Linked DNA regions of Homo sapiens. The protein of the gene in region 3 interacts with the protein of the main gene of each other region in a pairwise test. Each region holds a gene or a part of one and is shown on either strand. Other genes may lie near its edges.

What was found.
Region 1: the proteins of TPM1 (region 3) and MAD1L1 interact in binary tests that used the Homo sapiens proteins (3 or more experiments, as listed by UniProt).
Region 2: the proteins of TPM1 (region 3) and CAGE1 interact in binary tests that used the Homo sapiens proteins (3 or more experiments, as listed by UniProt).

What each region holds. Positions count from the first base shown.
Region 1 is NC_000007.14:2,219,255-2,223,002, reverse strand, and holds part of MAD1L1 (mitotic spindle assembly checkpoint protein MAD1), read left to right. Parts: intron 1-248; coding exon 249-428; intron 429-1,980; coding exon of another isoform or gene 1,981-2,119; intron 2,120-3,546; coding exon 3,547-3,671; intron 3,672-3,748. UniProt on the Homo sapiens protein: Component of the spindle-assembly checkpoint that prevents the onset of anaphase until all chromosomes are properly aligned at the metaphase plate.
Region 2 is NC_000006.12:7,369,016-7,372,763, reverse strand, and holds part of CAGE1 (cancer-associated gene 1 protein), read left to right. Parts: intron 1-2,698; coding exon 2,699-2,845; intron 2,846-3,748.
Region 3 is NC_000015.10:63,059,747-63,063,494, forward strand, and holds part of TPM1 (tropomyosin alpha-1 chain), read left to right. Parts: intron 1-1,122; coding exon 1,123-1,193; intron 1,194-1,451; coding exon of another isoform or gene 1,452-1,527; intron 1,528-1,966; coding exon 1,967-2,042; intron 2,043-2,468; coding exon 2,469-2,531; intron 2,532-2,829; coding exon 2,830-2,899; coding exon of another isoform or gene 2,900-3,063; exon of another isoform or gene 3,064-3,748. UniProt on the Homo sapiens protein: Binds to actin filaments in muscle and non-muscle cells. Plays a central role, in association with the troponin complex, in the calcium dependent regulation of vertebrate striated muscle contraction.

The DNA.
Region 1 (3,748 bases), on a different chromosome or scaffold from region 3:
CTGTGCCAAGTGCCCTTCCTGGGAGCCCTGACCTCGCACAGTGCTCACCGTCATGGTGCCACAGCGGGGGTGCCAACGCTGGGGCTGGGTCCCAGGTCCCGTCCTGGTTCTGCCTATGACTTGGCTCATGGGTCCTGCTCGGCTCTTTTTTGTGCCTCGGCATGTTCTGAGAGAGGTGTGGGGGTGAGGGCTCCCCGCTGACCCTCCCGTGGGCGGCACGTGGCATCTGACTCTTGCTCTCTTAACAGCGTGAGGTCGACCGCAACCAGGAGCTCCTGACGCGCATCCGGCAGCTTCAGGAGCGGGAGGCCGGGGCGGAGGAGAAGATGCAGGAGCAGCTGGAGCGCAACAGGCAGTGTCAGCAGAACTTGGATGCTGCCAGCAAGAGGCTGCGTGAGAAAGAGGACAGTCTGGCCCAGGCTGGCGAGGTGAGCGGGGCCTCTGCTGCGCAGGGAGCTGTTTTCCCGAGGAGAGGGAGTGCATGCTCTTGTTTGCCACTGCAGTGCCCGCTTGTGTTTTCACTTGTGCTTCCCACACGGGCAGCTGCGTTTTGTACATAGTTGTCATCAGTAGAAGTATTAATTTTCCATTCTGTAGTTTTCAGTTAAAAAGTTGAGACTTTGGGCCGGGCGCGGTGGCTCACGCCTGTAATCCCAGCACTTTGGGAGGCCGAGGTGGGTGTATCATCTGAGGTTGGGAGTTGGAGACCAGCCTGACCAACATGGTGAAACCCCATCTCTACTAAAAATACAAAAATTAGCCATGCGTGGTGGTGCGCACCTGTAGTCCCAGCCTGTGGGACTCGGGAGGCTGAGGCAGGAGAATCGCTTGAACCCAGGAGGTGGAGGTTGCAGTGAGCTCAGATCACACCATTGCACTCCAGCCTGGGCAACACAGCAAGACTCTGTCTCAAAAAAAAAAAAAAAAGTTAAGCACTTTTTTGCCTTTGTAATTATGAATTTAAATGGATGATGAATCTGTTTTTTGTTGTTTGTGGACGTTTAGTGTGTTTGTGTTCGCTCATGTATGTATGCGACAGGTAGCCCTTCCCTCAGCCCTCGCTTCTGTTGACTTTGGACAGACCCCTAGGACTGGGTTATAAGGTCCCTAGCGATGGCGGTCTCTGCAGCCGTTGTGCTCAGAGGCCTGGCTGAGGGCTCCAATTTCCCCGTAGCCTTCCCTGTCGTGGATGGTGGTCTTTTCTGGAAATAGCTGTTGTTTTGTCAGGAGGCTTAAGGAGGCACGTCTGGATTTGCATATCTTTGACTGTCTGCAAGGTCTACAGGCATCTGATGGCGTCGGATAATTGCCTCTGAACTGGAGCCTGTGTGAACTGCAGTCCTGGTGAAGGTTGCTTGCATTTTAGAAACAGCCCAGACATGGGCACTGGTGGAAATTGGAATCTTCTGACCTCTCCTGTCCTTTGTCTGTGGCGATCAAGATCGCTGGTGCCAAGAGGAAACATGAAAATCTGCTGGTGTGGGGGTGGAGGCGTGGTAGGGGTGGGGTGGGCGTGCAGCGGGGGTCCTGGAGGGGTCCAGAAACTGGCCGCGGGTCCTTCCTGTGGCCGTGCTGGGGAGGCGTGTTCAGGCTGTTCCCCTATCTGCTTCTGGAGGGAACGTTGGCAGGAGAGGAGGCGTGATTGGCTCCCGAGAAGCTGCTCTTGCCTTGCCCATGCTCTGGGTTCCAGTTCCCATGTGCTGGGCTGTACTGGAGTTGGGCCGGGGGCTGTCCCCGCTGCCTGCGGGCACCTGTGGTTCCATGGGGGAGGGTGAGTCGTGCCGAGCACTTCATGAGGGGCAGAGGAGCAGGAGACTGCAGGAGCCGCAGGGCGGTGCCCGGTGGGGTGGGGCATAGTGAGGGGAAGATGGTGGCGCTGCAGGTGCTGCTGCTTTGGCCTGTCATGTCTAAGCCGAGGTGGCCGCTCCTCAGGGAAGCCCTCCCTGCGCACTAGGCCTTGACTGCCTTCTCCTGTCACAGGGTCCTGATTGTCACGCTCCTTACTCTGGAATTATCTTATGCGCCTCTTCCTTGCCAACTGTCCGGCGTCCCCTACAACACGGGTGACCCTGTGGGCAGGTGGGCTCGGCCCTGCATCTGGCCTTGCCCCTGGCACACGGTGCGTATTAATTGAGTTCGGAAGACCTCTGGGAGGATGTGTTTATTGTTAGTATGTTTTTAATACCTTTCTTCTTTGTTGACTCCCAGGTTGATGCTTCACTGTTGTGGTGAAGTAAACCGTACATATTGTGGGCATGTGGGGAGCACGCAGCCCCCATGCGGGCCTTCCCAGAGCGGCGTGGGGTGGACAGCGGTGATAGGCTTCAGCAGGCCCTAAGCTGGGCACGTTCTCAGGGACAGGGAAATGAGTGCTGAGGCCTCCTTGTTTGCGGAGGGTGCCGCCCAGCCAGGCCCACCCAGGTCGTTTGCTGTGTGAGTTTGCCATTGTCCTGTCCTGGGTGCGTGGTCCCCAGGGCTGACATCACGCCCGTGTGTTTCCGTGTGTTAACTTACAGTGATGCTTCTCAGGGTCTGTCCGGCTTTTCACATTGGCTCGACCCACGTGCTCTTTCTTTCTCTGAGGACACCTGGGGTTTTCTGAGCTTTTCCAGAGGGTTAGGGTCCTCAGAAGGTCGCCTGGTGGGAGTGGTCAGGAGGAAGCCTGGCGGTTCTGTCGCGTGCGGGTTCCATGATGTCAGGCAGACCTGCTGTCCTGGAGGCTGCCAGAGGGGCTGCTGGCTTTGCTCAGGGGCCGCCTCCCCAGGGGCGCTCCTGCCCGTGCCGCGTGCTCCCGTTCCAAGCGCACGGCCTCCCCAGCAGGTACCGCCCTGCCCCTTGCACAGCCTCCGTCTTTGTCCTGTTGGTTGGCCAGTGCCTTGCTGTGGTGTGAGGGCGATGTCGCTAGCAAACAGCCGTCATGGTAGCATTGGGGTGGCTAGGGAGGGATGACAGGAGCCACGGTTGGAGGGAAGACCGAAGTGATGGTGTGGCGGGTATGTGGATGTCTGATGGGACTTTGGGAGCGTGGGGCACTGGCACAGAGACTGCCAGGTGCCAGGCCTGAGAGTCCGGGCCCATCTTGGCTGGTGGAGGCTTTTGCTTCTGAAGCCGCCTCACCAAGCCTCCTTTCCAGGGCCCCTGGCTGGGGCCCGGTCTCCTCTGTCAGCTCCTGGGTGGCTTGTGGCAGGCTCTGGGCTGTGCTGCTCTGGAGCACCAGGAGGAGGGTGGGCCCTGCGTGTGAGCGTCTGCCTGACCTGCATCCTCCAGAAGGAGGTGGCTCTGCCCCCTGGCCCTCTGCTCCCCTGCTCCTCTTCCCCCTGCCCTCTGCCCCCCTTGCCCCCTTGCCATCTGCCCCCCTACCGCTCTGCCCCCCTACCCCTCTGCCCGATGCCCCTCTGCCCCCTTATTCCTCTGCCCCTCTGCCTCCTGCCCTGATTATAGCACGTGGGTGGTGTCGCCTCTCCACTCTTCTCATCTCCATGTGCAGGCTCCTTCCACGCACGGGCTCCACTCACTGAGCGGCTCTCTGGTCCCCTCTACTTTTAGACCATCAACGCACTGAAGGGGAGGATCTCGGAACTGCAGTGGAGCGTGATGGACCAGGAGATGCGGGTGAAGCGCCTGGAGTCGGAGAAGCAGGAGCTGCAGGAGCAGCTGGACCTGCAACACAAGTGGGCGGGGCCAGGGTGTGGGGTCGGGGGTCGGGTCACGTGTGGGGGCATGCGTCCCACCTCTCTCCTGGTGGCTG
Region 2 (3,748 bases), on a different chromosome or scaffold from region 3:
TCAGGAGTTTGAAGCTGCAGTGAGCTATGATTGTGCCAGTGCACTCCAGCTTGGGTGACAGAGCAAGATTCTGTCTCAAAAAAAGAAAAAAAGAAAAAAGAAAAACAGATATGGAAAGGAAAATACACCACAGGTTTGGAGAAGTTTCTTTTGGTTCATGAATATTCAAAGAACAGCTATTCCTGCCTTCTTGTGGTTCTTTTGGTAGAGGTGGCCATTAACGTGGGAATTTTGTGGGTACTCATTGCCAGTCATCAAAAGCATCTTCCAGCAGTTACTTTTTTTTTTTTTTTTTGAGACAGTATTGCTCTGTCGCCCAGGCTGGAGTGCAGTGACACGATCTTGGCTCACTGCAACCTCTGCCTCCCAGGTTTAAGTGATTATCTTGCCTCAGCCTCCGGAGTAACTGGGATTACAGGCGTGCGCCACCATGCCCAGCTAATTTTGTATTTTTAGTAGAGATGGGGTTTCACCGTGTTGGCCAGGCTGGTCTCGAATTCATGACCTCAAGTGATCCACCTGCCTCAGCCTCCCAAAGTGCTGGAATTACAGGTGTGAGACACTGCGCCCAACCCCAGGGTTCCTTTGAGAAAAGATTTTCTAAGTTGTCTCTCAATCCTATTCAACAAAACAAAATAATATAATTGCATGTTTGGTTTACAAGGCAAAACAAACCTGTATCATATACTAGTTTTATACATTTAAGAACAGCATCAGAACCATAACAATATGTTTGGAGAAGCTGTAATCTTTTATTATATGTAGTTCAAAAGGCTTTTTTGGCAGCGAAGAACCTGGAAACACATTCTGGAAGTGATAATTTTCACAAGACAGAGCACATCTATTTCAGTTGTGTAGGCCTGCCTTAAAGTATGTATAGTAAAATCTTATTAAATGATTACTTAGAAAGAAGGCTAATATGAACTAGAAAAATGTGTAAGTTTATTTTTTGTATTTGTTTTATTTATTTATCTATTAAGACAGAGTCTCGCTCTGTCGCCCAGGCTGGAGTGCAGTGGTGTGATCTCCTCTCACTGCAACCTCTGCCTCCCGGGTTCAAGCAATTCTCCTGCCTCAGCCTCCCAAGTAGCTGGGATTATATAGGCACACACCACCATGCCCAGCTAATTTTTTTGTATTTTTAGTAGAGACAGTGTTTCACCATGTTGGCCAGCCTGGTCTTGAACTCCCAATCTCAGGTGATCCACCCTCCTCGGCCTCCCAAAGTGTTGGGATTACAAGCGTGAGCCACCGCACCTGGCTATGTTTATATTTGTTTTAATAACTTGAACTGAGCTGATGTTACCTTAAGATGTCCTTAGTGGACCCTCTTTTATGAATCTGTAATCATTTTAAGTATTCTTTACAAGTGAATGATTTTACTGTTTTTAAGGATTCTTAGGAAAATATTCTTTTCCTAAATTAAAAAAAAAATCTAAGATCTAAGAAAAAAGGATTATCTAAGCCAGTGGTTTTCAAACTTGAACATTCTTCAAAATTCCCTAAAACGCTTGTTAAAGCACAGATTGCTGGCCCTACCCTAGAGTTTCTGATTCAGTAATTCTGGGGTGGGGCCTGAGAACGTGCATTTCTAGCAAGATCCCAGTTGTTGATGCTGCTGCTCCTGGGACCACACTTTGAGAACCACGGACCTAAGCCACCTTAACTTGAGCTCCTAAGCAAATCATGATGAATTTTAAATTGGTAAGCTCTGAATGAATTAGTTTAATTGTACAGAAATTTAGCATAGTATATAATTTTCTTTAAGTTCCTTATTTTATTTTGATTAATCAATTTCTCTAACACTGAATTCATACTTACTCTGCTTATAGTTTTGCTTTTCATGAACTCTAGTTCTGTTTACTCCAAATATGGTCTGGGAGTATCTGTGAAGTCAAAAGTATTTTTATAGTAATATTAAGACATTATTGCCCTTTTTACTCTCATTTTTCACAAGTGTACAGTGGAGTTTTCCAGAAGCTACATGATGTGTGATGATGTAATTGCTCTCATGGCTGATGGAATGTGTGAAGCAAATATGAGAATCCAGCTATCTTCAATTAAGCCAGCATTAAAAATATTTGCAAAAAATGCAAAGCAGTGCCATTCTTTTCACAAATTTTTTGTTTCAAAAAATGTGGTAATTGTTTTTTTAAAAAATTGTTATTGGTTTGGCACAGTGGTTCACACTTGCAATCCCAGCACTTGGGAGGCTAAGGCAAGAACATTGCTTGAGCCCAGTAGTTCAAGACCAGCCTGGGCAACATGGTGAGACCCCCCATCTCTACAAAAAATTTGAAAAATTAGCCGAGTGTGGTGGCATGCACCTGTGGTTTCAGCTACTGGGGAGACTGAGGTGGGAGGATTGTGTGAGCCTAGGCATTTGAGGCTGCAGTGAGCCATGTTCACACTACTGCACTCCAGCCTGTGTGACAGTGAGACCCTGGCTCAAAAATAAATAAATAAATAAATTGTTATTTATGCTTCTACATAATGGAGTTATTGCTACTTTAAAAGAATTAGTAAACAAATATTTAAAAATATTCTCAGTTTTAATTTCTAAAGGGATCCTAAGATGAAAAAGTTTGAGAACTGTCGCCCAAGGTTTTTAAGAGTGCCATTTTATTCAGCATTTTACTTAAAAGATATTTCAGGTTCTTCATCATTATTTTGACAAATCTGAATTACGTGCATGTAGGATACAAAAACGACACATTCTAATCTGCTCCCGGATTGCTCACCTTGTGAAGAGAGGCTGAATCCTGCAGATATAAAAAGAGCTTCTCAGCTGGCCTCCAAAATGCACAGTCTTCTGGCTCTGATGGTGGGACTTCTCACATGCCAGGTAATAAAACATATATATTAGATATTTTAGTAGGGGAGGAATAAATACTGGGGTTGGACAAAAAGAGAGGCAATAAAAGGAATTAAGTTGTGGAAGAAGAAAATGAAGAATTGAAGATAAAATACAGACCCCTAAGCCATCCATCCAACCCTTCTTCGCCCCATGTCTTCTTTCTGCTTATCTTTCTTGAACACCTAATGCTCACAAGCGTAGAGATAGATAAGATGTAATAAGATAAAAAGAACCCTTTATTAAGTACTTCCCACGTTTCAGCGATGCCCTCCCAGATCAGTAGTCTTGTGCTCTGGTCAGTCTGCGCCTAGTGATTAATGACTGTTCACATTAATGAGCTGTTTGCCCAATCTAAAATACCACGTTTGGTTAGGAGTCGGGGAAGGGCAGTGTAGAGTTGTGTACATTAGTAGAATGAAAAGTGAAGTTGCTGTCAGATGAGTTCAGATGCTGGCTTATCATTTCCTAGCTGTGTAACTTGACCAAGTAACCTAACTTCCATTTCAGTTTCCTTATCTTTAAGATGGGGAAATGATGCTTCTGTCCTGGGAGCTTATAAGCACTGCATTTAATGAAAAAAACAATTAAGGGACATGCACGGCCAGGTGCGGTGGCTCACGCCTGTAATCCCAGCAATTTGGGAGGCCGAGGCGGGCAGATCACCTGAGGTCAGGAGTTCGAGACCAGCCTGGCCAACATAGTGAAACCCCATCTCTACTAAAAATACAAAAATTAGCTGGGCATGGTGGCGGGTGCCTATAATCCCATCTACTTGGGAGGCTGAGGCAGGAGAATAGCTTGAACCTGGGGGGAGAGGTTGCAGTGAGCAGAGATCGCGCCACTGCACTCCAGCCTAGGTGAAAGAGCAAAACTCTATCTCAAAAAAAAAAA
Region 3 (3,748 bases):
GTACAGTCTTGATTCCCGAGTGAGGCCATCTGCTTTGTTGGCAGAAATGGGTGGTTTTGAGAAGCAGAGTTCCTTTGTGTCCAGAAAACGGTTCTAATTTTAATCCTGCTAGGGGATCCCAGGCTTTATCAGGAAGCCAATCAGTAGCACTGCGAAGAAGGACCAAAACTCCTCTCCCCCAGCCACAAAGACCCGGACAAAAGATCTTTGGCCGGAAGGGAGAGTTGGGCCCTGTGTCTTGTGAAAGGAGGCTCTCATGCTGTCATGGTGCAAGTCATTTCTTCCCAGAGTGACCTGGCACATCCAGATTGGGCAGCTTAGAGACCACAGACAGTTTCTCAGTGGATTCACAGAGGCCTCTCTCCTCAAGGGTGGTAGAAAACTATTATCAACGCAGGTTTTCAGCAGAATTTGCTCCTGGTCGTGTCCCCATGAAAACAGCCTCCTGTGATAAGAGGCAACTTGATTATTAAGGTTTCTGTTTTTTCCTTATTGGATCACATCGTGGCTATCCTGAAACAGCATTGCCCCTCCTTTTTATTACCATTATTACCTTCAGATTACACTATGCTCACAAGTTTTGATCTGCTTCAGAGGCTCCCTTCCTCTCTCTGGTTCTTCCACTAAATACAAATTTGATTTTGTCAGTTATCTCACCAACTTGTCTCACGTTAGTGTCTCTTGTATTCTTCCACTGCAGTAAGGAGGTAGATGCACAGATCAGCCATCAAATTGATGGAGTTCTTAGGTTTACTTTGTTTTCCTGGCAGCCCCCACCTTTTTAGTACATGTCTCATCCTACTGCTGTTTTTGAGATTGTGAATGTGTATTTTATCCCTCCTTCCACATTTTGGTCTGGCTGCCGGTTCACCTAGGTCAGACTTCCAATTGAGACTGCCCAATCACAGCTAACCATTCTGAGTCAAAGCAGAAGCCTCTGATCTCCTCTCTGCTGGCACTCCTAATAGAGAGTTGCTTCTCTCTGGTCTACCAGAAAGAGGATCATATTGTTTGTAGACAAAACCCTTAGGGCCTGATGGGATCTGATCTCTACCCCCATGCCCTTCTGTTACACAAAGCTTGCAAGACCCATGGTGTGTGTGTTGTGTCTTCCTGCTGCAGGTGGCCCGTAAGCTGGTCATCATTGAGAGCGACCTGGAACGTGCAGAGGAGCGGGCTGAGCTCTCAGAAGGGTAAGCGGGCCCGGCGCCAGGAGGCCACGAATGGGGTGCTGCAGAGCAGTGACTAAACAGCATGACCTTCTGGCAGCTGCACATTACCTGTTTCAGCTCCGGGCTCCTTTTGTGCTCATTTGATGTGGATGAGCCACGAGTATGGAACATGGAGGACTCGTGTGGGGTGTCTTATGTATGAATGCGTGTATCACTGCATGCCTTACCTGCACACTGATTTTGTGAATGGCCTTGTGCATTTCCTGTGTCCACTAACAGCCAAGTCCGACAGCTGGAAGAACAATTAAGAATAATGGATCAGACCTTGAAAGCATTAATGGCTGCAGAGGATAAGGTACTGATGGCTCGTGTGGTTTTTAGGTTTAACTGCAACCCAGACATCTTTCAGCTTCCAATGCCTCCTGGTTCGTTTGGTATAACGACTGCACCTTCACTTCACCCTCTGCTATTTATATCTTGCCTTAAGTGCTTTCCCTTGGTCCTTTATGCTCCTTTGTTTTCCCTTCATAAATGCTCTTTGGGCAGCCAAAAAAGGAGCCAAATTATCGCACTTCAAAGTTGTTGGATTTGGTCACCCTGCCTTCTGCTGTTGCGAGGTTGGGGGGCAGTGTTCCTGGAAAACCTAAACATTTTAATACCTGATGATTTGGCTACTTTAAGGCAGCCCTTCGTCTCTAGGACTCAGTTTTCATTTTTTCCCATCCCTCTCCTTTTTCTCTCCTCCTTCCTTTGGCTTGTCTCCCACCCTTTCTGCCTCTGATCGAAAACATTAGCAAATGTGCCGAGCTTGAAGAAGAATTGAAAACTGTGACGAACAACTTGAAGTCACTGGAGGCTCAGGCTGAGAAGGTAGGCCAGGAGGATGGTGTGGGGGAAAGGCATCTTTTAAGAGCTGCTCAAAAGAGGCCCTGCCAGAAAGCAACACTTACAGTAGACATTTTAGTAAAATGGCAATATTGTGAGGTGATTTTTGGAGAGTTACTAGATAACAAATTCTTTTTTTTAACTAGAGAATTTATTTTATGTTAGGGATATGAGGCATCAATTTAATTTAAACCAAGTGCCAAGTGGATAAGTTATCTTGTTGTTATCCCATGTAAAACAATAGGCAAGAAAGCAGAGAATGTATTGCAGTGTGCCATTTGATATCAGAGGTTCCATTACCTCCTAAGAGATCCTTAACATCTGTTGGCTGAGCTGGCGAGTTCTTTGCATGAGAAGCCATGAGTAGATTGAGCTGCAGCCTGACATCTGGAATGCTCTTTCTAATTACAGTACTCGCAGAAGGAAGACAGATATGAGGAAGAGATCAAGGTCCTTTCCGACAAGCTGAAGGAGGTAATATGAGAGTTGTGGATGAAGCCAACTGGATTTTAAATGAGTTTGTTTTCATGGAACCGGTCAGGGCCTTTTCATTTTAAAGTTCCAATGATCCAAGTCAGGAATATTCAAAGGTCGCCTTGGAGTTTATGTACTGTGCTAACTGCCATTTCTCACAGAGGTGACTGAAACTGACAAGTAGTTTCTGATCCATTTTATAGGTGATGTGCTTCATTTTCATCCTCTAGTTTTCCCTATGTTTGTAGCTACAGGAAACATAAAACTTCCCAACTTTAACTCAAATAAATCATTACAGGCTGAGACTCGGGCTGAGTTTGCGGAGAGGTCAGTAACTAAATTGGAGAAAAGCATTGATGACTTAGAAGGTAAGATCTTAAGTAGTGTTTTTAGTTTAATCCTTATGGTTGAATACCAACCTGGCAAAACAATTTTCCAATTCAAGGGCATCCACATTGATACGCTCCTTTGCACTTGCACATTCTTCCTGTGTGTCCTCTGGGGTTTTTCTCTGTGGCTCTTGAACTCATGAACCTAAGTCTTCTGCTCACGAGGTGACTAGTTAGCCACCAGCCATAGTGGCAAATGCCATCCAGCTTGACTTCATGCTCATTACAAGTGTGGCAGGTTTATTTTTCACTGTGAGTGAGGTGCTTATTGGTGAGAATGACTCTAGTATATTTTATATCTTTAGTGTTACTTCCTAATTAAATTGGGAATGATGTGGTGATTGTGGTCTTGTTTTTAGAAGAACCCATCTTCTTCCAAGTATGAATTCAAAGTAAGGATTTAGGGGTTATTTTAAGTCATATATTATCTTAACAAAATACTTTATATCCTGAAGGAGGAGGGAAAAATTATACTTAAGCATTTCTTCCCTAAGGCACTTAGGTTTTATTTTAGTAATAACCACTCTATCTCACAGATATCCTAAATGTTGAGCTTTGAAGCTTGTGAAGGATTAGCTGTGAACAAGAAAGAAAAAAGACAAATATCTACATCACAGAAGGGATTAGAGAAGGAACTAGTGTTTGGTGCAGATAATAACCAAAATAGTGGAGAAGAGAGAATGACAAATGGTTGCAAAATGATCTGCCAAAGTGCAGCAAAGTATGAAACCTGCAGCATTACAAAAACTAAGTTGCAGACTTGCCATATAAAGTGTGGCGCCCATTGCTTTTCAAGCCTCCTGGACCAGTAATAGGCAGCTTGAGTGG